4 linked regions of the Homo sapiens genome follow. The protein of the gene in region 4 purifies or fractionates together with the protein of the main gene of each other region. This does not show direct contact. Each region holds a gene or a part of one and is shown on either strand. Other genes may lie near its edges.

The links.
Region 1: the proteins of SIGLECL1 (region 4) and MON2 purify together in Homo sapiens (co-immunoprecipitation; 3 studies listed by BioGRID and IntAct, with this or other methods). This does not show direct contact.
Region 2: the proteins of SIGLECL1 (region 4) and IPO8 purify together in Homo sapiens (co-immunoprecipitation; 3 studies listed by BioGRID and IntAct, with this or other methods). This does not show direct contact.
Region 3: the proteins of SIGLECL1 (region 4) and RANBP6 purify together in Homo sapiens (co-immunoprecipitation; 3 studies listed by BioGRID and IntAct, with this or other methods). This does not show direct contact.

Annotation. Positions count from the first base shown.
Region 1 is NC_000012.12:62,546,818-62,553,841, forward strand, and holds part of MON2 (protein MON2 homolog), read left to right. Parts: intron 1-79; coding exon 80-255; intron 256-2,850; coding exon 2,851-3,013; intron 3,014-6,063; coding exon 6,064-6,357; intron 6,358-7,024. UniProt on the Homo sapiens protein: Plays a role in regulating membrane trafficking of cargo proteins. Together with ATP9A and DOP1B, regulates SNX3 retromer-mediated endosomal sorting of WLS away from lysosomal degradation.
Region 2 is NC_000012.12:30,664,851-30,671,874, forward strand, and holds part of IPO8 (importin-8), read right to left. Parts: intron 6,247-7,024; coding exon 6,112-6,246; intron 4,433-6,111; coding exon 4,333-4,432; intron 1,402-4,332; coding exon 1,325-1,401; intron 996-1,324; coding exon 879-995; intron 460-878; coding exon 370-459; intron 1-369. UniProt on the Homo sapiens protein: Involved in nuclear protein import, either by acting as autonomous nuclear transport receptor or as an adapter-like protein in association with the importin-beta subunit KPNB1.
Region 3 is NC_000009.12:6,012,624-6,020,560, reverse strand, and holds the start of RANBP6 (ran-binding protein 6), read left to right. Parts: upstream 1-4,936; 5' UTR 4,937-4,953; coding exon 4,954-7,937. UniProt on the Homo sapiens protein: May function in nuclear protein import as nuclear transport receptor.
Region 4 is NC_000019.10:51,246,434-51,254,102, reverse strand, and holds the start of SIGLECL1 (SIGLEC family-like protein 1), read right to left. Parts: upstream 3,024-7,669; 5' UTR 2,558-3,023; intron 1-2,557.

The sequences.
Region 1 (7,024 bases), on a different chromosome or scaffold from region 4:
TTAAACTTGAAAAGCAACAGTAAAGCCTTCTTGTCTTTTTGGACTTCTCTTCCTAATTAGTTTCTTGCCCCCTTTTCAGAGGCTGCAGTTGCTTTTATTGAACCCGTTAAAGGAGATGTCCAATATTAATCATCCAGATATTCGACTCAAGCAGTTAGAATGCGTGTTGCAGATTCTGCAGAGTCAGGGAGACAGTCTTGGGCCTGGATGGCCATTAGTGCTTGGAGTCATGGGAGCAATCAGAAATGATCAAGGGTAAGTATTTAAAATTATTTGAGAAAAAATATGTATGAAAAATAAAATATAAATAAAATAAAATTAACATCAAAAAAGTGATAGAGGTAGAGAAGGACTCCATCCTAAAATCTTGAAATAGTGGTTATTTTTTTCATGTATGCGCTTCCTGCTTAAGGCTAAGATCTGTAATAGTTTTTCTTAACTCTACCCCTAAGTGGCTACAGGCAATTTTTAGGGATCACCTTTGGTTTGGAAAGATGGAAAAATTGCTCTTTATTTAACATTCATGCAAGAATACATGATTCTTACTTATAAGATACTTGAAACAATTAACAAATTTTATAACACATCCAAAGATTGGGCTGTTGTGTTTTGTTAAATTATTTGATAAGATGTGAATTAGCATTTAGGGCTTGACCTCCCTATATATATTAGGCAGTCAGAAATTGCTTTAAAGTAACTTTTTCATTACTTTTTAATTTATTAAACATTTATTCTGTGCAGAGTGTATTTCAAATACTATACATGGTAGTTATTCTGATTACACAGGTAAATAGCTCCTGCCCTAGACATAGAATCCTAGTGAGAAAGTATAGTTATACGCTGCCTAACGTTTCAGTCAACAACAGACCACATATATGATGGAGGTCCCATAAGATTTTAATACTCTGTTTTTACTGTACGTTTTCTATGTTTAGATATGTTTCGGTACATAAATACTTATATTATGTTACAATTGCTTACAGTATTCAGGACAGTAGCAAGCTGTACAGGTTTGTAGCCCAGGAGCAATAATATACCATATAGCCCCGGTGTGTAGTAGGTTATATCATCTAGGTTTGTGTCAGTAAACTCTGTGATGTTCATACAGCAACAGAATCGCCGAATGACACATTTCTCAGATCATATCCTCATCAGTAAGCAACACATGACTGTAGTTTGTTATGCCACAAAATAAGAAACCTTCAGCAGGAGGAGGACAGAGGCAAAATTATGAAGGAGATCTTATATGGTTATATAAATGATTTGAATTTATCCAAAATTCATGTGGGAGACATTTTGGGATTTTAAGCAGAGGAATGACTTAATCACATATGAATTTTATAGATATCACTGTGACAGCAGCATGGAAGGGAAGGTAGGAAATGAGAATGGCTACAAGTGCTCACTAGAAATAAGAGATGGATTTGAGCTACTTAACGGATTGACTGTAGCGAGGCATAGGGGAAAATAGCAATCAGGAGTGACTTCTAGATTTCTGACTTAGGCAGTTTAGTGGGGGATGGTAGTATCATTAACTAAATAGGGAAAAGACAAGGAAGAGCAAATTTGGAGGGGACATATGGACTTGTTTAACTTTTGGGGTAGGAGATTGCAGTGGAGAGATTAAGCAGACAGACATTGGATAGATTTTTCTGTAATTCTGCAGTATCACACTTTTGTTTTGATGACTAGTTCGGAAGTTGTAGACGACCAAGATGCTTGAGAATATTATGGAAAGTTAATTTTTCTTAAATATTTATAGTAATAAAATTCTTTACTACAAAATATTGAGATGCTTAAATTGAAGAATCAGCTTAGATCAAGCTTAAGTGTCTTCTCCCAACCTATAATGTGGTGTACTAAATAGGGCATTGTAGTAAGGGTATAATGAATTAATGGGTGTAAAACAGTTAGAAAGTATGTGACATACTAAGCACTCAGAGTATTAGCAATTATACTTATCATTTTCATTACTATTTTTTACCACCAGGATTTTTCTCCAAAACTAAATACTTCTTATTATCTTTATTTGAAATTCAAAATTTACTCTTTTCTCACTGACTGGATGTGGGTTTTTATATTTCTTTGGAGATTTAAATAAGATACAGTACGGATATAAAAGAATGAGGAGCTCTTTTTCAGTAAATTGTGTGTATTTACATGTACTGGACACTGTACTAGATATCAGGGATACAGTGAGGAGAAAAATAACTGTAGCAAACTTGCCATTCTCATTTATTGTCTAAGTTTTCTTTGGTTAGTTGGTATGAAATACAAATAGAAGTAATATGATGTTAATACTTTATTTTTAAATTTGTTTTTATTTCTTATTGCCTGTAAGCTTCTTTCTTTGTTTTTGTTAATTTGTTTAAGTAAGCATGTCTTTTTTACATTTATGTAAATGTTAAAATACTTTATGATCAATATTAGGAGTTTCTTGTTTAAATTCTGAAATAAAATTTTACTTCAAATTATTGTAAGATATGTATTTTTACACATTTCTTTTAAATGCATAAGTAAGGCTGGGTGTGGTAGCTCATGCCTGTAATCGTAGCACTTTGGGAGGCTAAGGCAGGAGGATCACTTGAGCCCAGGAAATTGAGACCAGCCAAGGCAACATAGTGGGACCCTGTCTCCACAAAAAAAAAAAAAAAAAGGGCATGGGGGTGTGCACCTGTAGTCCCAGCTACTGGGGAAGCTGAGGTGGGAGGATCACATGATCCAGGGAGGTTGAGAGTGAGGCATGATCGCACCACTGCACTCCAACCTGAGTGGCAGAGTGAGACCCTGTCTCAAAAATAAATAAATAAATAAAATAAGTGCATCTGTATACATTTCTTTTGTTTTCAGAGAATCCTTGATACGAACTGCATTCCAGTGTCTTCAGTTGGTTGTGACAGATTTTCTACCAACAATGCCTTGTACTTGCCTGCAAATAGTTGTAGATGTTGCAGGTAGCTTTGGCCTCCATAACCAAGAACTCAATATTAGTTTAACTTCAATAGGTTTATTGGTAAGTATCATTGTCCTTAGAATATAATATAATTTAGAAATCATTGTTATTCAGTTGGGAGTGAATGCTAAGCAAATATACTTTTAGCTCTTTGCAAATTGTTTATATGGCTTTTAAATTTCAAACTTACGTCTGGGTGAAGGATTAAATAACATCACTTAAATATTAATAACAAAATGTTTGAAATAATTTTCATACATTGAGCTGAAGTTTGGGTTTTACAGGGTTTGTCATGAAAGGGTTTAGTAAACAATAGTATATACAAGGGAAATCTTCAGTTGACTTTTATGTGAACCAATTACATTAGCCCCTGACAAGAAAATCAGCTTGTACTTTGAAGCCTTGAAGCCAAGCATTGACTTTTTATCTTTAGCCATGAAAGTCCTACATGACATCTTCAAGTACAAGGCTGTTTCAGGCTGGGCATGGTAGCTGATGCCTGTAATCCCAGCACTTTGGGAGGCTGAGGTGGGAGGATTGCTGAGGCCAGGAGTTTGAGACCAGGCTGGGCAATAAAATGAGACTCCCATCTCTACTAAAAATTAGCTGTGTATGGTGGTGCACACCTGTAGTCTCAGCTACATGGGAGGCTGGGATGGGAGGATTGCTTGAGCCCAGGAATTGGAGGCTGCAGTGAGCTATGATCACAGCACTGCACTCCAGCCTTGGCAACAGACCCAGACCTTGTCTCTGTAAAAAAAAATGATAATAATAAAAAGGCTGTTTTGTCTACATTGAAAATCTGTTGGTCAGTGTAGCCACCTTCATCGGTGATCTTAGCTAGATCTGGATAACTTGCTACAGGTTCTACATCAGCACTTGCTGCTTCACCTTGTACTTGTAGGTTATGGTGATAACGTCTTTTCTTAAACCTCATGAACTAGCCCCTGCTAGCTTCAGACTTTTCTTCTGCAGCTTCCTCACCTTGCTCAGCTTTTATAGAATTGAGGAGAATTAGGGTCTTTCTCTGGATTAGGCGTTGGCTTAAGGGAATCTTGTAGCTGGTTTGACCTTCTATCCAGACAGCTGAAAGTTTGTTGATACCATCAATAAGCCTGCTGTACTTTCTTCTTTCTTTCTTTTTTTTTTTTTTTTTTTTTTTTTCTGAGACGGAGTCTTGCGCTTGTTACCCAGGCTGAAGTGCAGTGGCATGATCTTGGCTCACTGCAACCTCTGCCTCCTGGGTTCAAGTGATTCTCCTGCCTCAGCCTCCCATGTAGCTGGAATTATAGGCGCCCGCCATGATGTACTTTCTTATAGTTTGTTTGTTCTTTGGAGTAGCACTTTTCGTTTCCTTCAAGAACTTATCCTGTGCATTCACAACTTGGCTCACTGGCACAAGAGGCCCAGGTTTTGGCCTGTCTTGATTTTCGACATGCCTTCCTCACTAAGCTTAATTATTTCTAGCTTTTGATTGAAAGTGAGACAAATGCGACTCTTCCTTTTACTTGAACACTTACAGGTCATTGTAGGGTTATTAATTGGCCTAATTTCACTGTTGTTGTATCTCAAGAAATAGGGAGGCCTGAGAAGAAGTAAAAAGATGAGGAAACAACCTGACGATGAAACAGTCAGAAAACTCACATTAAGTTTGCCATCTTACATAGGTGCGGCTCATGCACCCCAAAATAGTTGCAATAGTCACATCAAAGATCACGGATCATAGATCACCATAACAGACATAGTAATAATTAAAAAGTTTGAAATATTACAAGTATTACTAAAATGTGGCACAGAGACACAAAGTGATCACATGCTGCTGGAAAAAAACGGTACCAACAGACTTGTTCAATGCAGGGTTGCCACAAACCTTTATAAATTGCAATTTATAAAAATTACAATTATCTGTGAAGCACAACAAAGAGAAGTGCAATAAAACAAGGCATCTCTGTAATGAAATCTTAGAGAATTGTTAACATTACATGAAATAAACATGCACAGAATTGTTTTCAACATATATTTTAAGGCAATTATTTAGAATCTTTTAAATGTATATTAAAACTCAGAAGTTTTATAAATTTGAACTTTAAATTTTCCTCACAAGCTAGATAAGTTACTACATTCATCTCTTCCTACGTTCAGCTCTTAATATTTGTGGCTTCTGCATCTGTAGATTCAACCAACTATAAATAGAAAATTTTTTTTTAAAACAAGATAGTTGTATCTGTACTGAACATGTACAGGCTTTCTTGTCAATATTACCTAAATACAGTATAACTAGTTACATAGCATTTACCTTATGTTAGGTATTAAAAGTTACCTAGTATTATTCAAAGTATACAGGAGGATGTGTGTAGATTATATTCAAATACTACACCATTTTATATAACAGACTTGAGGATTTGTGGATTTGGGTATGCAGTGGGAGGTCCTGAAACCAATCCCCCACGGATACCGAGGGACAACTGTATTTTACTATTACTATTATTTTTCCCATTTTTACATGGGAAAAAATGTAAGCATGTTGCATATATGATTGCAAGTGGGTGGCTAGTGCAACATTGCTTAAATTACTGCTGGATAGCACCTCCTTTATTTTACATTTATGTTCACAGTACTGGATTCTCTACATTTTAACCATTGGCATAATTATCATTAATATAAGATATGTTTGGAAACAGTAATTGCTCGTGTATGAAATTACAAACTTATTAAACAATATTAAGGAATTGTTAACATTGTTAGGGTGATAATGATATTATAGTTTTTTTTTATAGTTAACAGTTGTTATATTTAGGTGGTAGATACATCAATATGTTCAAGTTCCTTATACTATTCTTGGTTTTTTGTATGTTCTTGACATTTTTTATAATAAAAAAGTAAAAAAAAAAAAGTTAGCTCAAGATTGTTTCCCCACTTTCTCCTGAAATAATGTAGAGACACTGACAGAAGAAGAGATGTTTTCATTGAATCTATTCTACTAGGAAAGAGATTTTTGAAGTAATGTTTTTAAAGTTTTACTCTGAAAGGTAAAACAGCCACATGTTGCATATTTATGTGTTTAAAACAAAACCTTGGATGAACTAATATTTTTCTACTTTGCTTTTTAGTGGAATATTTCAGATTATTTTTTCCAAAGAGGGGAAACTATTGAAAAAGAACTAAATAAGGAAGAGGCAGCACAGCAAAAGCAGGCAGAAGAGAAAGGAGTTGTTTTAAATCGGCCATTCCACCCTGCACCGCCATTTGATTGCTTGTGGTTATGTCTTTATGCAAAATTGGGTGAACTATGTGTGGATCCCCGTCCTGCTGTCAGGAAGAGTGCAGGGCAAACTCTGTTTTCTACAATTGGTGCGCATGGAACTTTATTACAGCATTCAACCTGGCACACTGTTATCTGGAAGGTATTGTAAAATAGATTGGACTATCAGCTTTTAATGAGTCATGCTTATATATTAATACTTTTTCAGTTAAACTTATTTCTTTTAATTTTTAAAGAATTTCCATGCATTTGTGTATTTGACAAAACAGGAAATAACTGTGTCATATTGTAAATTGTACCTCATAAAGAGCAAATTAAATATTAACAGCCTTATCTCTGTTTCTGTCTTCATCTCTTATTATTATATCTCTCGTGATTTCTGCCTTTGCCTTTCTGTCTCCTTTTTTTCCCCCAGTTTTCCCAAATGGTAAAAACCAGGAGTTACTAAACAACAAAGGGTAATCAATCCCTTACCATAGAGTAGAAAGCTTTTGGGGTTTTTGTTTGTTTTACTTTTGAGGTCTACTTATAGATATGTAATTTAAATATAATCAAAAGAGAATTTTATTAACAGATGAATATCAATAGCAATGAAGTTTATTTGTAGACTCACCAAACAAAAGTAACCTCCAAATGGTATATTGTACATGTAATGTTTATTCATTAAATTACAATTTCATTTTTTTCTTCTTTTGAAACTTTCTAATAAAATCAGCAGTTTATTAGTGATCATTCCCTCTTTGCTAAAAGTCTCATCTTTTTTGTTCCATCTGTTCCATTATAATAAAATTCTGTTTATAATCCTTTCA
Region 2 (7,024 bases), on a different chromosome or scaffold from region 4:
TGGCTCAGCCTCCCTAGTAGCTGGGATAACAGGCGCCTGCCATGAAGCCCAGCTAATTTTTTGTATTTTTGTAGAGACAGGGTTTCACCATGTTGGCCAGGCTGGTCTCAAACTCCCGATCTCAAGTGATCCGCCCACCTCAGCCTCCCAAAGTGCTGGGATTACAGGCATGAGCCACTGCGCCCAGCCTATAAATCTTTTTCTTTAATAGTCTGTCCTTTATTCAGCTGATGTGACCATAGGCAGACATTCTAATTGACTCTATTTCATCTCAATATGTGGCAAAAGGTCAATTTATCCAAAAAACATTTATTTGAATAATTATCTTATGAAGATTTAAGATACATAACAGAAATATGAAAAACTTACTCTAGCTCGAAGATATCCCAGGTTAGACAATAATAATGGAAATACATGATTTTGTAGAAACAGCTCCATTTGGTCCTTGAATAAACTCTTCTATTAGGAAACAAATTTCAACTTATCAATTTCTTTTTCATACGTAAGAATCACTTCCTAATCAAGTGTGTTTACTATGACTTGCATTTAATATACTTCTAATTTTGTAAAATTATTTGACCTATATATTGCATGTTTTAAAACAAGACAAATATTACCTTATATCAGTTTGATATTGATTGATTTTGTAGACATAAGATACTTTGTATCCCTTTCACATATCAATAGTTTCATACTGAAAACTTTAAACAGTCAAATTTTCTTTTTAATTAAAGAAATAGATGACAGAAAGGAGGATAGTTGTGAACTCAATTATCCAGAGGTAGTCACCAGCTTTAAATTAGCCATAACTTTCATATTCTCTCATTTGCCTGTACTTTACAATGTTATTAAGTAAATTAAATTTTGATTATCTTAACCTTCAGTAAAATCTCAGCTAGGGAACCAATCACATGCAGGGCTCCATCTTTCTTCCTAGGGTCAAAGTTCGGGTCTGTCAGGATTTGATAACAGAATGCCATCATTTTTGGCAACACCTAAAGAAACAGAAGAATCCATTTAGTCTACATGAACTTTCATTGTCTTACTATAGTATTAACTATGATGCACAAATTTTTAAAAATAAAGCCATTTTATTATGTTTTATCAAGCAACTATAAGCTCAATAAGAAAAGTATAATTTATTAAGAAAACGAAATAACCATGATACCCCCTTTCCCCTCACCAGGAGAGGAAAAAAAAAATCCTTAAGGTGACAAATTATAACGAATAACAACATAATTTCTCAAATACTAGGGATATACTAGAGTATCAACTCAACACAGGCCACCTTTCAGTTTTGGATTTAAAAAGAAAAATGAAATACCTCTTTTCTTTTCTTTGCAGCAGTATATAAGAGAGTCTGGGCTGCTGTGGTGGGAGAAGCATAATCTTCAAAAATATCTAAGATTTTAAAAGGTTAAAACCATGTTAGTGAAAATATAATTACTTATTCTAGATTTTAAACCTGACTGACCGCTATTCCAAACCAAAAAAATAAAACCATCCACATATGACACTGCTTGACAGTACTAAAAAGGTAAGGATATACAGTGGCACCACAACATTGCTGTCTCCTGCACAAAACAATGTTCCTCAAACTCTACAGGTTGTCCTTTCAAACTATTATATTGAAGAAAACAATGCATTTACACATCTGTTTCACTGAGAACAGAAAAAGTGCTTTATTTCTATCAAAAAACAACAAAAATTCACTCAGCTCTTACTATGTGCCAGGTACCATTCTAGACCCCGGGGATACAAAGATCAAACAAAAAGGTTCTCACGGAGCTTATGTCGTGAAACAAAGAAACACATTATACATATATACACACATAATAAGTCAGGCTAAGAACAAATGTAAAATAGGGTAAAGAGACAGAGTGACAGAGTATGGGGTGCTAGTTTAAATAGGGTGTTAGCAAAAGCCTCTCCAACTCTGTTAAGGTAACATTTAAGCAGAAATTGAATGAAATGAGGGAGAAAGCAATCCATGGATAAAGTACTCCAAGCAGGTGAAACAGCAAGTATAAAAGCCTTGAAGGACTGCTAGGACCATGCCTGGCTCTGTCGATACGTAAGTTCAGCAGGTTTTGTTGAATATATACCTATCTAAAACTTAACATATCACTTAATACCATGAACATTTTCACAAGTTTCAGAATAGGCAGTTTTACATAAGAAACTGAAGTCTTGAGAGGTATCTGATAAGTCCTTGTTTAAATACAAAAGATAAAACCAAATCTAAGTCTACCTCAAAATATAAAATACAAACATAATAAGAACATTTTTGGAGTACTGTACTTACTCTGTGCCAAGCAGTATGCTACAGTTTTAGAAGCATCTTGTATTCTATGCTAAGCAGTTAGTTCATGTGTATTATCCCATTTAATCCTCCCAGCACTATTATCATCACCCGTTTGACAGCTGAAAGCACTGAATTTTAGAGAGGTTAAGTAACCTGTCCACAGTCACACAGCAGGTAAGTGACCAAACCAGCATTCACACCCACGCTATCTTAACATCAAAGCCTGAGCTCTTGTTAGTTCTTACCAAATCAAAAAACATTATTGGGGGAAGTGAGGAGATGTTGGTTAAAGAGTAGATAAAAAGAATAAACTAAAACATTATTATTAATCAGTCAATACATTTAGATAGGAATGCTTTGTTTCACGTAAATAATTGCAAGTGCCAAACATATAAAAAGAAAATGCAGTAATTGTTCTTCCCTATGGTTACCCAAAAGTAAAATACACATATCAAATAAAAGCCACTGCATTCCAGTCTACAGAAGGAAACGATTAAAGAAAACTCACTTCAGCTAGTCAGTCTTGAGTTACCCATATCCGCTTTTAAACAATAAAATGTAAATTCCCACTGTTAATCAACAGACATAGAGTTCTTATTTTCTAAAAACTAGGGTATGTATACCTATCTTATCAGATATGAAGAATATATAAATAATGGTAACTTTCTGAAAGCTAAACAAATACTCTGTACATCACAAAAACACATAGGTATTATGAAAGAAGTAAACACTAAAAGAATGCCTTGCAAGGCAAGAGGATCACTTAAGCCAGGAGTTCGAAACCAGCCTGGGAAATACAGGGAGACCCTGTCTCTGCAAAAAATAATTAGCCAGGTGTGGTGGCACATGCCTGTGGCCCCAACTACTTGGAGGCTGAGGTGGGAGAGTCACTGGAACAAAAAAAAGAGAGAGAGAGAGAGAGAGAAGAATGGTTGGCTAATCACTCAAAGCAAACTAGAAAAACAAAGGCATAAGAAAGGGGAAATAATAAGTTACACATATGAATAATGATTTTCAAAAGAAAAATAACAAATCAAGCAGATGATAAATGTTTCTCATTGATTTGCTTTTCTGATACTTTGTCTCCAAGAGAAAACAGGATCCTCACTTACTGAATCAAATAATATAAACACAAAGCTCTGTAAAAACACAGCCCAAAAAACTAGCATCTGTACCAGTAGGTTTAGCTTACGTAGCTAGACACACCTGGCTCAACTAAGGGGAAAGCACTGCTTCATTACAGCACTTTCAGCACGCAGCGCTAGATTTAGCAATCATTTCTTTCAACATGTATTGAAGGCATACTGGAGGCCAAGCACTAGTGGAGGAATGCAGAGGTGTAGAAGAGACAGAAAATGCAAAATTAAGCAAATAAGGTAAAATTCCTGTCCTGAGAAAGCTTCTAAGTTGTGGGAGATAGGTATGCAAATTAATATTTTGCTATGTTAAGTGCTTGAGTGTTCCATGAAGCAATTAATACAAACTGGGAATAAAAGGGAATAAATCAGGCCACCTACACAATTCAACAGTTTCCAGGAAGATCCAAGTTAAAAGGACACCCAAAGAATTGGACCACACACAGTAGGGCCCCCATACGAAATTTATTTCCCTTGTGGAACACTTAGTCTCTCAGACAAGCAAGCAAACCAAATTGGGGTACCCCTAAAATATGCAGAAATCCAAAGTATTTCCCACATGAGAACAACCCAATCTATAAATGAGTCTCCCAAAAGGCACAAAAACGGATGGTCCCTGCAGATCAGCATCGCAACAGCATAAGTAACAGATGGCTCAACTTGAGCACCCGTAAGAGAGATGAATGAGGTGGCTTTTCATCTCCCACATCCGACAATCTCCAGTTCTCTAGTTCAACAAAATAACATCAAACTCTCAAAGTTTCAGATTATGTCATGCAAAACAGAACCTGGGAGATTTAATAAAGTAATAACATTTGCTTAAAAATATAAATTTAGTTATATTACTTTACATATCCAGGAACTGATGAGAAATAAAACCATCTCAATTACCAAATTTCATCCTTATATACTCATATGGATCTTCTTGCCACAGCTCTTCATCCTCATCTTTATAACACATCACAGAAAAAATCACATCTTCAGAGATATTCTAAAATGAGAAAAAAAAAAAAACGTAACAAATGGGTATAGGCTATTCAAGTTTGAGGAATACTAATAATGTACTTGTTGACAGCCTTTATGATGTTAGTTTTCCAAACTCTGTGTGTGTGTAAAATGTCAAGTCGAGGTTATATTTACTATTATAGTTCTTATTTTGAAATTTTTTTTAACATTTCCATTTTAGTCCTAAATGTCCATGTATTAACAATATTAAAGGGCCAGGCATGGTGACTCATGTCTGTAATCCTACCTCTTTGGAAGCCCAAGGGCAGAAGGATCGCTTGAGGACAGGAGTTCAAGACCAGCCTGGGCACTGTAGCGAGACCCCATCTCCAAAAAAATACATAAAAACGTAGCCAAGCATGGTGGCGTCCATCTTGGAGGGTCTCTTGAGCCTAGGAGCTCAGGGCTGCAGTGAGCCATGATCATGCCACTGCAGTCCAGCCTGTGCAACAGAGTGAGACTCCAGCTCCAAAAAAAAAAAATTGGAATTTTCTTTACTTCTATTCCCAAAAAAACTAATTTCCTACTCCACAAATGTTTCAGTTAGAGAAAAGTCCTATCTACTAGCCTCTCTGTGCACTGCTACTAATGTCCTATTAAGCCCTTTTAGGCTCTAACAACAATTTATATAAAAACAGGATCATCTCTTACCACTTAATTCCAAATTAAATAATTCTAAGTGAAAAAATTCAGCCTAAGGATCAGCGTTTTCTTATTCCTACTTTACAGCTATGTAAAAATAAAGCCAAAGGTATGAAGTAGAGAAGAAATGTTATCACAACTCACCCTTACTTTACAGGAACACAGCAAATGAAATCAGTATCTTTATTAATTAATTGCAAAGAAATTATCACTATTTGATCAAAGTGATTAGGCAAATAGTTATTAAGATATCTACATAAATCAAAGAAAAGATATCTGTTGGTAAGACGGGTAATAACACTAAAATTCTATCCTGGACAGCAAACAGCAAAGTGAAAGATTTTTCTTTTCAGATATCATTTATAAAATTTAAGAATTCACAGTTTGGGAGAGAGTAGGTATTCAGTTCCTAAGACTGTCAAATTATCCAATTATTTGTATACAAGGAAGTATTTATTTATTAGTGGCCTATAATTTTCCATTCCCATTTGTTCTTTAGCTAAATAACAATACTGAATTCTACCTTTAGGCAAACGATATAGAAACAATGATGCTATTGAACTTAACAATCCAAGAAAATAAATAAAAACCTTGCTCATACCTACAAAATAAAACGGTCACATATCAGTCTTCAATTCCTGCAAAATAACACTACCTTAGTAGAGCCCTGGTAAGTTTTCAAAATACTTTCTCACAAAATACCTCATTTAATCCTAGCAACTTTTAGATAAGAATAGAAAAACACTATGTGCCTTAATAGAGGAGAAAATGAGGCTTAATGAGATTAAGCAAGATCAAGTGAATCCAGGTCTCCCGACTCATAAAACTTGAAGGCTTCACTTTTCTCAAATGCTTAAATTTCTAAGCCCTTTATATCTGACATAGGACTTCACTCATTAGAAATTATTAATGGTAAAATGTATATATATAAAATGTAAAATATAGGATTAGTAATACTAACTTTGTCTAGAAAACCTAATTTAACCAGAGAATAATTTTGGAGAGCTGCTCTCTGACACTAACCTGTATGTGTGGCTTCATCTGCTTCCAGGTTATAGAATGAACCACCCCTTGGTTGAGATAGTTGAATGCTTGCTGAAGAACACGGGGAGCTACATATTCTTTCTGTCTATATTGATCTAAAATTTTTAGTAGCACCTATAAGAAAACAGAAAATACAGACTAACATAAACAATTATAAGGTTAAAAGGGGGAGGTGCCATTTTTGGCATGACCTAAAATTCAGAATCCATAGAAAAATAAACAGATTTGGGAGAAAAATCAATGTTTTGTAAGAAAGCTCAGATAAACAGCTTTAATTATTAGATAGGTCCATGTTATATTGAACTAAACGGTGTCTCATTGTAACTTCCAGGCAAAGTCTAAATTTCTATTCCACTGCTAGCTCTTCAAAGTAAGTTAAAACTCCTGTTTAAAAAATTACAATAACAGGAGCCGGGCACGGTGGCTCAAGCCTGTAATCCCAGCACTTTGGGAGGCCGAGGCGGGCGGATCACGAGGTCAGGAGAACGAGAGCATCCTGGCTAACACGGTGAAACCCCGTCTCTACTGAAAACACAAAAAAATTAGCCGGGCGTGGTGGCGGGTGCCTGTAGTCCCAGCTACTGGGGAGGCTGAGGCAGGAGAATGGCATGAACCCCGGAGGCGGAGCTTGCAGTGAGCCGAGATCGCGCCACTGCACTCCAGCCCTGGGTGATAGAGCGAGACTCTGCCTCAAAAAAAAAAAAAAAAAAAAAAAAAAATTACAATAACAGATCTGACTAAAGAAACATTAAAAACTTCCATACAACAAGAGACAGCACAAAGATGTTTCTTTATTTCATAAAGACTTCTTCAAATTAGAAGAGAAAAGTTGTTCAAAAAATAGTATTGGCATAACTGATTAGCCCCCTGAAAAAATTTAAATTAACTCCCT
Region 3 (7,937 bases), on a different chromosome or scaffold from region 4:
CATAAGTGGATCTTTCTCATGGAGCAAAGAGCAGGAGGACAGGGGATTGATCTCCCAAGGGAGGTTCCCCGATCCGAGTTATGGCACCAAATTTCACTTGCGTCTGTGTGAAGAGGCCACCAAACAGGCTTTGTGTGAGCAACAAGGCTGTTTATTTCACCTGGGCACAGGCGGGCTGAGTCCGAAAAGAGTTAGTGAAGGGAGATGGGGTGGGGCCGTTTTATAGGATTTGGGTAGGTACAGGAAAATTACAGTCAAAGGGGGTTTGTTCTCTGGCTGACAGGGGTGGGGGTCACAAGGTGCTCAGTGGGGGAGCTTTTGAGCCAGGATGAGCCAGGAGAAGGAATTTCACAAGGTAATGTCATCAGTTAAGGCAGGAACAGGCCATTTTCACTTCTTTTGTGTTGGAATGTCATCAGTTAAGGCAGGAACAGGCCATTTTCACTTCTTTTGTGATTCTTCAGTTACTTCAGACTATCTGGATGTATACGTACAGGTCACAGGGGATATGATGGCTTAGCTTGGGCTAGAGGCCTGACAGATATGATACCCTTCATGATCTGGCCTTTATTTAACTTTCTGTCTTCCTCCTTCCAGCTTCCTGTATCATCCCCAGACCCCCTCAAATCCCATGCTCACCGCCCCAGCATTACTGAAACACTGGCAGAACTCTCATCACAGTACACCTGAAGGCCTCTCTGTGTCTGAAAAAGCTGTACCCTTTACTTAGAACAACTTTCTCTCTTTTCAAATGGTTAATGAGGACTCATTCTTCAAAAGTCAACTCTGATACCTCCTCTGGGAAGCCTTACTTGATCAACCCCATACCCAGAGTAAATTAGCTGCCTCCATAACCCCATATGGCTCCATGGCAGGCTTATCATTACTACAGTGATCACTACGCTATGTGACATTTACTATCTCTGTTTACTATGAGATTCACATATCTTCATGAATTTAGTCTTTAATACCAGCAACTCAGCACCATGCTTGAGTGTACCCTCAAAGAATGCTTGCTGAGAGACTAATTGAATAATTGCATACTCTTTTTCTTTCTTTTTGTTTTGAGACGCAGTCTCGCTCTGTCACCAGGCTGGAGTGCAGTGGTACAATCTTGGCTCACTGCAACCTGCGCCTCCCGGGTTCAAGCAATTCTCCTGCCTCAGCCTCCCAAGTAGCTGGGACTATAGGCACGCGCCACCACGCCCAGCTAATTTTTGTATTTTTAGTAGAGATGGGGTTTCACCATGTTGGCCAGGATGGTCTCAATCTCCTGACCTTGTGATCCGCCCAACTCGGCCTCCCAAAGTGCTGGGATTACAGGCATGAGCCACTGCACCCGGCCAAATAATTGCATAATCTTAACCCAGAATTTTTCAAACATTTTTTTCTTTTTCTTTTTTCTTTTTTTTTTTTTTTTGAGATGGAGTCTCCCTCTGTCACCCAGGCTGGAGTGCAGTGGTGTGATCTTGGCTTACTGCAACCTCCGCCTCCTGGGTTCAAGCAATTTTCCTGCCTCAGCCTCCCTGAGTAGCTGGGACTACATGCGCACACCACCAAGTCCAGCTAAATTTTTTGTATTTTTAGTAGAGACGAGGTTTCACCATGTTGGCCAGGCTGGTCTCGAACTCCTGACCTCAGGTGATCTGCCCAACTTAGCCTCCCAATAGCCTCCCAAAGTGCTGGAATTACAGGCATGAGCCACTGCGCCCAGCTCATTTTTTTCAAAGAGGTTGTACCAATTTACCTATACTCTCAACAAAAATATAACTGAGTTTCCTGTTGTTCCACATCCTCAGCAACCCTTGGCTTTGTCAGACTTTTAAAGCATTGTGGTAGGTCTGTGGTGGTGTATCACTGTGGTTTTTTTCAATGTCTTTCATATGCTAGTGGATATAGTATTAAGTAATTAATTAATTATTATTAACATTTCCTGAAACGGCAAATGCAAAGTCCCTCCAGTTAGACTTTTTGAAGGAACAGTAAGAAAACCAATGAATGGGCCAGGTGTGGTGGCTCATGCCTGTAATCCTAGTACTTTAGGAGGCTGAGGCAGGTGGATCACTTGAGGTCAGAAGTTTGAGACCGGCCTGGCCAACATGATGAAACCCTGTGTCTACTAAAAATATAAAAATTAGCTGGGTGTGGTGGTGCATGCCTGTAATCCCAGCTACTCAGGAGGCTGAGGCAGGAGAATTGCTTGAACCCAGGAGGCAGAGGTTGCAGTGAGCTGAGATCGTGCCATTGCCCTCCAGCCTAGGTGACAGAGCGAGACTCCATCTAAAAAAAAAAAAAAAACAAAGAAAGAAAGAAAACCAATGAATGCACAACTGTAGTCATAATCTTAGAACCAGAATTGATCTTATCAGCGATTCTCAAATGTTGGTATTTATATAAAAACCCAATGTGCTGGTTGAAATTGTACATTCTTAGTCCTCAGTCCCCCCAGAATTCTGGGTTAATAGGAACTTGGGCCCTAACATCTATATTTTAAAATAGGTATCCCAAGCAATTCTAATGCAGTTGGTTTTCAGTCTACAGAATGAGAAATTCTATTTTAGAAAATAGCTCTGTTTCATATTACAGTGTCTTTTTTATGAGACAGAGTCTTGCTGTGTCGCCAGGCTGGAGTGCAGTGATGCAATCTCGGCTCACTGCAACCTCTGCCTCCCAGGTTCAAGCGATTCTCCTGCCTCAGCCTCCCGAGTAGCTGGGACTACAAGCATGTGCCACCACGCCCAGCTAATTTTGGTACTTTTAGTAGAGACGGGGTTTCACCGTGTTGGCCAGAATGGTTTTGATCTCTTGATCTCGTGATCTGCCTGCCTCAGCCTCCCAAAGTGCTGGGATTACAGGTGTGAGCCACCATGCTCGGCTACAATGTAATTTATGAGACTACCTACTTTGTCTATCATCTGGTTAATGTAAAAGCTACGACTTTCTAATTTTTGTGGGTATATGCGGCAGCACTTTACAAAAACAAAATTAAGGCTGCTTGGAAAAGTTTAAGACAGAATTTGCAGTAAGTGAAGCCTCTGATCATGCTGCAAAACCAAGAGTAGTTAATGGGGAAGCAATATGGTGAAAAGAGCATCAGTGTCACTTTCAGAAGAGGTAGAATTGAGACTCAGGTGTGTCATCCTAGGCAAATCCTGTAACTTCCCTTAGTTTCCACTTCTCACCTAAATTTAGTATTATATCTATCCTAGCAATCTCTCAATTCTGTATAAGGGTCAAAATGAGTGTGGCAAGTGCTAATACAAAAGTAAGACCTAATCATTGTTATAGGAATGAAACTTGTTTTTGATTGACACACCTGCCTGAATTAAAGAAACAAACTGGCCAGGCGCGGTTGCTTACACCTGTAATCCTAGTACTGTGGGAGGCCGAGGCGGGTGATCTCTCACGAGGTCAACAGATCGAGACCATCCTGACCAAACATAGTGAAACCCCGTCTCTACTAAAATACAAAAATTAGCTGGGCGTGGTGGCATGCGCCCATAGTCCCAGCTACTCAGGAGGCTGAAGCAGGAGAATTGCTTGAACCCAGGAGGCAGAGGTTGCAGTGAGTTGAGATCGCACCACTGCACTCCAGCCTGGCGACAGAGCGAGACTCCATCTCACAAAAAAAAAAAAAAAAAAAAGAAACAAATTTAGTTTCATCAACATTTGTTTCTTGGAATAACCTCAGCAGCTTCCCACTAATGGTTAGTTAGGATTCTAGTTAACCGCATCCCTTCATATTTCAGTTTAGACAAGATGCAAGGAAAATCTTGAGTAACTTGTCCTAGGATACAAAATTAATTTAGTGACAAGGCCAGGATGCAAGTCTGTCTTCTGATTATTAGTTCAGATCACTTTCTACCATACTTTACTCAGTTGTCTTTCCCATTCTTTATTATAACCAACAGGCCAGGTGATTCTGACACACACCAGATTTTGAGCTACCACTCTACTGCATTAGATGTGGTAGTGGGGAAGTAATTATTATTTTATTATCACACTTATTATTTTATAAAGCTTTATTGTAGTATTATTTATATGCCATACAATTCACCAATTTAAATTTAACAACTCAATGGTTTTTAGTATAATCACAGAATTGTGCAACCATCACAATTAATTTTAGAACATTTCATCACTCAGAAAGAAACACCCTATTTGATAGCAGTCATTCTCTATCCTCCCCTCCCCCCAACCTCTGGCAACCACTAATTTCTGTTATACAATTTGCCTGTTTGGTACCTTTCATACAAATGGAATCATACAATATGTGGTTGTGACTGGTTTCTTTCACTTGGCATGTTTTCAAGATAGACTTATTGTTTTAAAATTATCAAAGTAACAATATAGTTTAGAAATAAAAGAAAAAAATCACTCATAATCTGACCAGAAGCAGTGGCTCACACCTGTATTCCCAGTACTTCGGGAGGCCGAGGCGGGCAGATCACCTGAGCCCAGGAGTTCGAGACCAGCCTGGGCAACATGGCGAAACCCTGTCTCTATAAAAAACACAATTAGCCGGGCGTGGTGGCGCGCGCCTGTGGTCCCAGCTACTGGGGGAACTGAGGCGGGGAGGATCGCTTGAGCCCAGGAGGTTGAGGCTGCAGTGAGCAGGGATCGCGCCGCTATACTCCAGCCTAGGTGACACAGCCAGACCTTGTATCCAAAAAAAAAAAAAGTCATGATCCCATTCTAATCAATGCTTTTCTTCTCTCGCCTGCAAGTGCACGTTTATCTTATTGAAAAACAAATGGAGGATGCCATTGGCCTCCACACGGCTCTCACCTCTCTCCAAAACCTAGCTCGCAGCCTGCCAGAGCGCAGCTAGAGTTTCTGGGCAGAGGAGGGAGAAGCACCCCGCCCATCCCCGCCGGCGCCTCGCCTACGTCACTGCTTCGAGCCGCAGACCCCCTCCCTCCTTCCCGGTCGCGGTAGCTTTGACAGAGCGCAATGGCGGCAACCGCGTCTGCAGGGGTGCCGGCGACCGTGTCAGAAAAGCAAGAGTTTTACCAGCTTCTGAAGAACCTGATCAATCCAAGCTGTATGGTGCGGAGGCAAGCAGAGGAAATCTATGAAAATATCCCAGGTCTGTGTAAGACTACCTTCCTCTTAGATGCCGTCAGAAATAGAAGAGCAGGTTATGAGGTGAGACAAATGGCTGCCGCACTGCTACGACGGCTTTTGTCCTCTGGGTTTGAGGAGGTTTATCCAAATCTGCCTGCTGATGTTCAGAGAGATGTCAAGATTGAACTGATTCTGGCTGTTAAGTTAGAAACACATGCTAGCATGAGGAAAAAACTTTGTGATATTTTTGCAGTGCTGGCCAGGAATTTGATAGATGAGGATGGCACTAACCACTGGCCGGAAGGTCTGAAGTTTCTTATTGATTCAATCTACTCCAAAAATGTGGTTCTATGGGAAGTTGCACTTCACGTTTTCTGGCACTTTCCTGGGATTTTTGGGACCCAAGAGCGGCATGATTTGGATATCATCAAACGGTTGTTGGACCAGTGTATTCAAGATCAAGAACATCCAGCAATCAGGACATTATCCGCTAGAGCTGCAGCTGCATTTGTACTTGCTAATGAGAATAATATTGCTCTTTTCAAAGACTTTGCAGACTTGCTTCCTGGAATCTTACAGGCTGTGAATGACTCATGCTACCAGGATGATGATTCAGTGCTAGAATCCCTTGTTGAGATTGCAGATACCGTACCTAAGTACTTGGGTCCTTATTTAGAAGATACTCTACAGTTGAGTTTGAAGTTATGTGGAGACTCTAGGCTTAGTAATCTGCAGCGCCAGCTGGCCCTCGAAGTTATAGTGACCTTGTCTGAAACTGCCACTCCGATGTTGAAAAAACATACAAATATTATTGCACAGGCAGTTCCTCATATATTAGCAATGATGGTTGATCTACAAGATGATGAGGACTGGGTAAATGCTGATGAAATGGAAGAAGATGATTTTGACAGCAATGCAGTTGCTGCGGAGAGTGCACTAGACAGACTGGCTTGTGGGCTTGGTGGAAAAGTTGTTTTACCAATGACCAAGGAGCATATCATGCAGATGCTTCAGAGCCCTGACTGGAAGTATCGACATGCTGGATTAATGGCCTTATCTGCCATTGGAGAAGGATGCCATCAACAAATGGAATCAATTCTAGATGAAACAGTTAACTCCGTTTTGCTTTTTCTTCAGGATCCTCATCCAAGGGTGAGGGCTGCAGCCTGTACTACACTTGGACAGATGGCTACAGATTTTGCACCTAATTTCCAAAAGAAATTTCATGAAACAGTGATTGCAGCTCTGTTACGTACCATGGAAAATCAAGGTAATCAGCGTGTGCAATCACATGCAGCTTCTGCTCTTATTATTTTTATTGAAGACTGCCCTAAATCATTGCTAGTTCTATATGTGGATAGTATGGTGAAAAATCTACATTCCGTCTTGGTGATTAAACTTCAAGAGTTGATTCGGAATGGAACTAAGTTGGCTTTGGAACAACTTGTGACAACCATTGCATCAGTTGCAGATACAATAGAAGAAAAATTTGTCCCATATTATGATATATTCATGCCCTCACTAAAGCACATTGTTGAGCTTGCTGTTCAGAAGGAACTCAAGCTTCTGAGAGGAAAAACTATCGAGTGCATTAGCCATATTGGTCTTGCTGTTGGGAAGGAAAAATTTATGCAAGATGCATCAAATGTGATGCAGCTGTTGTTGAAGACACAATCAGACTTAAATAATATGGAAGATGATGACCCTCAGACCTCTTACATGGTTTCAGCATGGGCTAGAATGTGTAAAATTCTTGGAAAAGATTTTCAACAGTACCTTCCACTGGTTATCGAGCCTCTTATTAAGACTGCTTCAGCTAAACCTGATGTTGCTCTCTTAGACACACAGGATGTGGAAAATATGAGTGACGATGATGGCTGGCAATTTGTAAATCTTGGAGACCAGCAGAGTTTTGGAATTAAAACTTCAGGACTTGAAGCAAAAGCAACTGCTTGCCAAATGTTGGTTTACTATGCTAAGGAGTTAAGGGAAGGGTTTGTGGAATATACAGAACAAGTTGTGAAGCTGATGGTTCCTTTACTGAAATTTTATTTCCATGACAATGTTCGAGTGGCAGCAGCAGAGTCCATGCCTTTTCTCCTGGAATGTGCAAGAATTCGTGGCCCAGAGTATCTTGCACAGATGTGGCAATTCATATGTGACCCCTTAATCAAGGCTATTGGTACTGAACCAGATACAGATGTGCTCTCAGAAATAATGAATTCTTTTGCAAAGTCCATTGAAGTTATGGGAGATGGTTGCCTTAATGATGAACACTTGGAAGAACTGGGAGGAATACTGAAAGCAAAACTTGAAGGGCACTTTAAAAACCAAGAATTGAGACAGGTGAAAAGACAGGAAGAAAACTATGATCAACAGGTTGAGATGTCTCTGCAAGATGAGGATGAATGTGATGTTTATATTCTGACCAAAGTATCAGATATTTTGCACTCATTATTTAGTACTTATAAGGAAAAGATTTTACCATGGTTTGAACAACTACTTCCATTAATTGTAAATCTAATTTGTTCAAGTAGGCCATGGCCAGACAGACAGTGGGGATTGTGCATATTTGATGACATCATAGAGCACTGCAGTCCAACTTCATTTAAATATGTAGAATATTTTCGGTGGCCAATGCTACTAAATATGCGAGATAACAACCCTGAAGTCAGGCAAGCTGCTGCTTATGGCCTGGGTGTCATGGCACAGTTTGGTGGAGATGATTATCGTTCTTTATGTTCAGAAGCTGTTCCACTTCTGGTAAAAGTTATTAAGTGTGCAAATTCCAAAACCAAAAAAAATGTCATTGCTACAGAGAACTGTATCTCAGCAATAGGGAAGATTTTGAAGTTTAAGCCTAACTGTGT
Region 4 (7,669 bases):
AAGCAATTCTCCCGCCTCAGCCTCCCAAAGTGCTAGGATTACAGGCATGAGCCACTGTGCCCTGCTGTGAATCAATTGGGAATGACTGAATCATGCCATGACTGTTAACTACTTTTTTGGTTAACATCTAATGAGAAACTATGGTTGCCATTTACAACTCTAGAGACGTAGAAATTTTATCTTTTATCTTAGTCTCAACAACTCTGTGAGGTACATCTCATTATCAACACTTCCAAAAGGAAGGCAGAGATCCACAAAAGTACTATGACTGGCCCCAAGACATGCAGCCGTTACGTTCATAGATTTCAGACTCAACCTTTGACTACAACTGTGGTGTCTTTTTCATGATTCTATTTTGCCTTAAAAACTGCTGTATAAGCATGGTGAAGTTCATTCTCCTCTCCAAATTCACTTCCTCATGAATAAAATATAAGAATAAATCAGCTAGCCCTGATGTGACACACAGTATACTTAGATTTTTCCTGGAAGTGGACCAGAAGTCAGAAGACCTAATCTTTGTCGCTACTTCCTGGGTGATTCTGGGTAAGTCACTTCCCTCACTGTCAGCCTGCTTCAGAGACTAAAAACAATCATAAATGAATTTTGTTTGGCCTACAAATGCTTACTTTTTAAAACTAACTTTTAAAATGGGATAACATTTAATAATCAGAGCACTTCACAAAAAATTCAAACAACCAGCTTCTCTCTCTCTCTTTTTTTTAAATTTTAAATTCAAGTCAAACTGCCTAGATATGAAGGTTAGCTGTTTTATAGTGTGCAAGTAGCTTCACCTCTCTCTAGGCCTACTTGCTCATTTTAAAAACATGGATAATAATAGCACCCATCTTAGAGTTGTTGTTAAGATTAAATGAGTCAGTAGAACAGAACCTCACATTTGGTAAGCAATCAAAAAATGTTAGTTACTATGTATTAGGTTCCCTGCTTAGCTCCTATCAGCATTTAACTTGGAACCACTTTTTTTTTGTTTTTTTTTAACACAGGGTCTGGAGTGCAGTGGCATGAACATGGCTCACTGCAGCCTCGACTTTCCAGGCTCAAGTGATCCTCCCACCTCAGCCTCCAGAGTAGCTGGGACTATAAGCACAAGCCACCAGGTCCAGCTAATGAAAAAATTTTTTTTGTAGAGACAGAGTCTCACTATGTTACCCAGGCTGGTCTCGAACTCCTGGGCTCAAGCAGTCTTCTCACCTCAGCCTCCCAAAGTGCTGGGATTGCAGCCGTGAACCAACACACTCAGCCTGGGACCACTCTTGACCACCCCTAATCCCTTCCCAGAGTTCTGGAACCAGCCCTGTCCTTTCCTATTCCATATTTCGGCATGTTTTAACAGACCTCTCTGAGTGGTCTGTGCTCCCAACCCTTAGCCTCCAGACTGATTGCCCTTTTTCCTTCTCACATAAAAAAGATATCGCCCAAGTTTCCAGGTCGTTAAATGCCTCTCTCATTCACGCCACATATCCACTTTCTTTTTGCATTGTCAATTTTTTTTTCCTTCCCCTTTCTTCTGTTTAAAAGCCCATGTTAGATGGTCGGAATGAGCCTTGTCTAGGTCCTGGGCCAGGATTTGCCAGTAAAGCACTGAATAACTGTGGTCAAGTATTTTCCCTCTTCTTATTTCCTCATGTGTAACATGAGTGGGTTTTACTGCTGGAGATGTAATGATCCATTTAAGTACAAAATTCTGATTTCTTCTTTCTTCTCTCCATCAGTTTTAGAGCATACATGTGATGACTCGTCATGCACCCATTATATTTTCTTTTTCTTTTCTTTTCTTTTTTTTTTTTTGAGACAGAGTCTCGCTGTGTTGCCCAGGCTGGAGTGCAGTGGCACGATCTTGGCTCACTGCAACCTCTGCCTACGGGGTTCAAGTGATTCTCCTGCCTCAGCCTCCCGAGTAGCTGGGACTACAGGCACGGGCCACGATGCCCATCTAATTTTTGTATTTTTGGAAGAGACGGGGTTTCACCATGTTGGCCAGGCTGGTCTTGAACTCCTGACCTCAAGTGATCCCCGGCCTCAGCCTCCCAAAGTGCTGGGATTACAGACGTGAGCCACTGCGCCCAGCCTATTTTCCTTGACCACCATGTCTCTCAATTTTCCTTCACCATCATGTCTCTCAATTTTCCTTCTGTCTCTTGTTCCAAAGGGCTCAGGATATTCTCTGTTCTCAGCACACTTCCATCTGTGTATTTCCTTAGCAGGGTGTGAGTGATGCAAAGGTGTTCGGCTTTCTAAGGGAAGGGCTGACTTACTAATGACTGACCTATTTATGGTGAGGAAAACGATTTTCTAGGGAAAGCCAGGATAACTAACAATGAAACTGATAGACACACATGGGATAACTGTGTGAGTAATGACTGGGTGCCTTGCAGGGGTGTAACTTACCAAGAGACCGACTTAGCGGGAGCCTAACTAACCAATGAACAGGGCAGGTTCTGAAGGGAGTGGATTTTCTCATGAACTGATTTTCAAAGGGACTAACCGTTGACTCATAAGGGCACTGACCTGATTGTGAACCCACGGGCCGCTTGCTTACCTTCTTGGTAGATGGATGTCGCCCCAGCTGCCCTCTGGCTGACCAGGTGACTGACGTGGTGGAGGCTGAGGAACGCTGGCTCCTGGCGAACTCCCTGACTATGCTTAATCTCACCGCCTGACTGTTCAGATTTAGCCTCTGTCTGACCAAAGGGCTCTCAGGGGCCTCACTGGCACGAGAGCCGCCCTGGTGGCCTAACCGACCTGCGGCTGCCCCACGGCCCAAGGATCCGCTGACTGACGCTGACTGGAAGCCCAGTTAGTGCAGTTTCAATGAAGGAACCCAACAACCGCCAACAACTGCCAGGGACCCAACAACCGCCAGAACCCAACAACTGCCAGGGACGCCAACAGGCCAGGCACAGCCTTATGCGACTAGGGATCCTCAGTCGGCTGCACAGAGATAGCGGCGTGAGGGGCGTGATAGCCGCTGCAAGACCTGCTAGCTCGCATCCTTAGGTGAGTGCATCCACCCGCAGCCAATCAGCGGCTGCATGGGCTTACTTTACACAGCCAATCAGAGGCTGCATGTGCTTATTTTACAACCAATGAGAGGCTGCATGGGCTTATGTTGCAGCCAATCAGAGGCTGCATGGGCTTATTTTATAGCCAATCAGAGGCTGCATGAGCTTTTTCTACAGCCAATCAATGAAGCAGAAGCATTGTGCCCACAGGCGTGTGCCCCTGGGAGCTGATGCACGGCTGCCAGAGTCAATCAGGAACTGCAACTGCAACTCCCTCCTCCAACCTTTGTGCCCAATTGGATCTTGAGGGCTTGAGCCAATCCGCAGCTGGGGGCGGTGCCAGGGTAGTTTGTGGGCCAATTTTCTTCCCAGCAAGGCCTTTCCAGCCCGTGCTGATGAAACCACACTCCTCTCCAACCCTGAGGACTCCGTTCCTCTTGTTTAACCCTGTTTATTTTTTCTCACACTTTATCCGTCACGCACTTTCTTACCCATTACACTTTCAAAATGACAGAGGCATTTGAGCCAGAGCAACTCCGTCTTGAATAGGAGCTGGGTAAAATGAGGCTGAGACCTGCTGGGCTGCATTCCCAGAGGGCTAAGGCATTCTAAGTTACAGGATGATATAGGCGGTCAGCACAAGATACAGGTCATAAAGACCTTGCTGATAAAACAGGTTGCAGTAAAGAAACCAGCCAAGGCTGGGCTCGGTGACTCACGCCTGTAATCCCAGCACTTTGGGAGGCTGAGGCGGGCGGATTACCTGAGGTCAGGAGTTTGAGACCAGCCTGCCAACATGGCGAAACCCTGTCTACTAAAAATACAAAAATTAGCTGGGCGTGGTGGCAGGCACCTGTAACCCCAGCTACTTGGGAGGTTGAGGCAGGAGAATCGCTTGAATCCGCGAGGTGGAAGTTGCAGTGAGCCGAGATTGCACCACTGCACTCCAGCCTGGGCAACAGAGTGAGACTCTGACTCAAAAGGAAAAAAAAAAAAAAGAAGCCAGCCAAATCCCACCAAAACCAAGATGACAATGAGAGTGACCTCTGGTAATCCTCACTGCTACACTCCTACCAGCACCATGACGGTTCACAAATGCCATGGCAACGTCAGGAAGTTACACTATATGGTCTAAAAAGGGGAGGCATGAATAATTCACCCTTTCTTTAGCATGTCATCAAGAAATAACCATAAAAATGGGCAACCAGCAGCCCTCGGGGCTGCTCTATGAAGTAATCATTCTTTTATTCTTTTACTTTCTTAATAAACTTGCTTCCACGTTACTCTATGGAATAGCCCTGAATTCTTTCTTGCAAGAGATACAAGAATCCTCTCTTGGGGTCTGGATCAGAACCCCTTTCCTGTAACAAAAACACTTTGTGCTAAATATCATTTGCTAATGGTATTTTTGTTTATGGTTTGACTGTGCCACTAGAATAGAAGCTCACTTTTTGGTTTTGTTTTATGGTACATGGGAGACCTCCACTCCCTATTACAACAGTCTCCACCTCCCTGTTGCAGCAGTTCCCCTTCCACTGCTGCAAAGATTCTTCTCCCTTTATTGGAATAATTGTTTTGGATAAAATCTTGCCTTATTTATGTGCAGATTTTTTTTTTTTAATGTGACAGACTGAAGGATGATGTTCACCCTCCAGGGCCTTACTCCATGGCCCTTACAGCTTGCAGAGCAGGCCCCAGATAGACTTCCCGAGAGGGGACCTGACTTTGTTCCCTTTACCCTAGCTGTAGCAGACTGACTGCTATTACCTAAACATCTGCCAGCCCCTCTTCTACCTCCTTGCTTTGTAATTGATATTATCAGTACCTAAACTGCTTTTCCTCGCTTCTCTGCTTGCTGGCTCTTGCTTTCCCTTCAAGGTGCAGTTAGAAAGGGGCTTCCTCTGAGAAGCCTTTTCTAACTTCTTTCCCATCCCTGAAAGCTCTTGCCCTTGGGTCCCCAGACCCTAGGCCATAATTATCCCCATAATTTATATCCTTTGCCATCTTTATAGGAACCTTATCATACTGTGTTTCAGTAAGTTACCTATTTCTGTCCCTTTCCCAAACATTACCCCATGAACTTGAGCTCTCCCAATTGTCAAAATAACTAACTGGGAAGCCATTAGGCTGAGATGGCTCCAAGGCCTTTGTTTCCAAGTAAGCAAATTCAAACCTAACTCAAAGTGAATGGTCATATCCTAGAAAAATGAAACTTAGGCTTAACCAATCGAAACTGCCTACTAACCTCTAAGTAGAGACTTTACCAATCAGAAACTGCAAGTTGACCTCTAATTACAAACTTTAAGGCTACCGTTCCCCTTTAACCAAATGAAACTATTTTCTTTGTTTTGATTCCAGGAATACCTTATAAAAGTTTTCCTTGTGTGCCCACTAGGTGGTTTGGCACTTCTGGATTCATGAATGTCAGCTCAAATAAATTCTTTAAAATTTTAATGTGTCTAAGTTTATATTTTCATATGAGCCAGGGACTGTATCTTCTTCCTTTTGATGTTCTTGGAGGAGCTGAAGCAGCTAGGTTACTTGGGGTATAAACATGGGGTTCCGCTGGCACATGCCAGGACAATTTAGGACACAGAAACACACGAGGATTTTAGGAGTGGAGGTTTAATGGGTAGAAGAGAAGAGAAAGAGAAACTGCTTCCTCTAAAGAGGAAGGGGTCTTGGAACGGAAAAAAAGACCATCTGGTGGTGAATGCTGCAAATTTTATAGTCCCATTTGAGGAGGTGGTGTCTGATTCACATAAGGCTCATAGATTGGTTTGATCGGGTATAATGTTTAAATAGCACACAAGGAAGGCTGGTAACCCCACCCTAATCTTCTTATGCAAATGGACTTTCCAGTTGATCAGTGCCACCTTGTCTGCTCCTTACAGCACGTGACAGAGAAGGGAAGATGGAGCGGCCATCTTGAAAATGTCCATTCCTTAGTTCCTGCCGTCATTCACTCATGCAAGCTCCCAGGTTGCAGGCTGCTCTTTGTTAGAAACTGATTTGGGGCTGCTTTTCATTAAAAAGAAAAGCCTTACCAAGGACTCCCATGCCCTTGCTCTGGGCCTAAGTAATTCCTTCTTAACTCCTGTATTGGTGTAGCATGTAGTAGGCATGCAGGAAAAGTTTGGAAAACAAAGAAATTAGAACCTCAGGATTTCTCAAGACCGTCTTCATAAATGTGATAACAAAGGAATTCTTAACAGGACCCGTTCAGGATTAAACAAGTTTTACTGGGGGTCTTGAGACCCTTGAGACACTAGGGGCTATCTCTCCCTCCGTCTGCCTCTCAGGGTGTACTTTTGCTTTGCGATAAACTTCTTCAAATGCACTAAATTGTTTTGAAATTGGGCAACGGCCGGACACGGTGGCTCACGCCTGTAATCCCAACACTTTGGGAGGCTGAGGCGGGTGGATCACCTGAGGTCAGGAGTTCGAGACCGCCTGATTAACAAGGTGAAACCCCGTCTCTACTAAAAATACAAAAATTAGCTGGACGTGGTGGCAGGCACCTGTAGTCCCAGCTACTTGGGAGGCTGAGACAGGAGAATTGCTTGAACCCAGGAGGTGGAGGTTGCAGTGAGCCAAGATCACACCAGTGCACTCCAGCCTGAGTGATGGATCCAGACTCTGTCTCAAAAAAAAAAAGAAATTGGGCAACATAGTGGTTTTCGTAGTGAACTTGAAGAACTAGAGAAAGTTCATTTTGTTCAAGTATCTATGTGAATACAGAGGAGGAAGGCTCTAGTTCAGTGTTTCTCAATTTGGTGCTTTTTTGCACCCTGATAGACACCTGACAATATCTGGAGTCCTTTTTTGGTTGTCAAAACTGGACTAGGGGAGCTACTGACATCTTGTGTGTACAACCTAGAGACGCTGCTCAACATCTGACCATGCACCCTTGTTCCTGGACCAAACCAAGGGTCAGGCTGCTTATTCTCTTAGCCCAATGACAAGATGCAGGTGAACTGGGAGAGAAGGGAGTTTATTTCTGTAACTGGGCACAGGGAGAAGATCTGGAAAATATTGCCAGACCAACTCAAAATTACAAAGTTTTCCAGAGCTCATATACCTTCTAAGCTATTTGTCTACATGTAAGAGTGCATTCATCTGGACGTAAGCGATTAACTTCTTCCAATCTGTAACTAAGATGTCAGTCCTGAAGATCTTCCTCTGTAGCCTCAGTAAATTTATTTAAACTAAATGGGTCCAGGTGCTGGGGTGATTACCCTTATCTTGTCTCCTGCTAAATCATGGAGGTTTGGGGAGTTCCTTCAGACCCCCAATAAACTTGTTTGTGGAGGCTTAGAGGAGTTTCTTCAGACCCCCCAATAAAACTTGTTTAATCCTAAACGGGTCCTGTTAAGAATTCCTTCATTATCTTGTTATGCTCAAGGCCCAGAAAAGGCCTGGGCAAAATTCTTGGTGGGCTTTTGTTACATTCCAGCCTTTGTATGAGGGCACTGGCTCTGTCAGCTTTTAATATTTAACTTAACCACTCAATCAGTGCTGAGACAGTTGTTATGGAGGCCTGCCTGTTCAGCGGTTAGGGAGACCTGACCTGCCACACCCTCCCCTAACCACCACCACCAAAGAATTATCCAGCCCCAAATGCCAGAATATGAATATCGTTGAGGTTG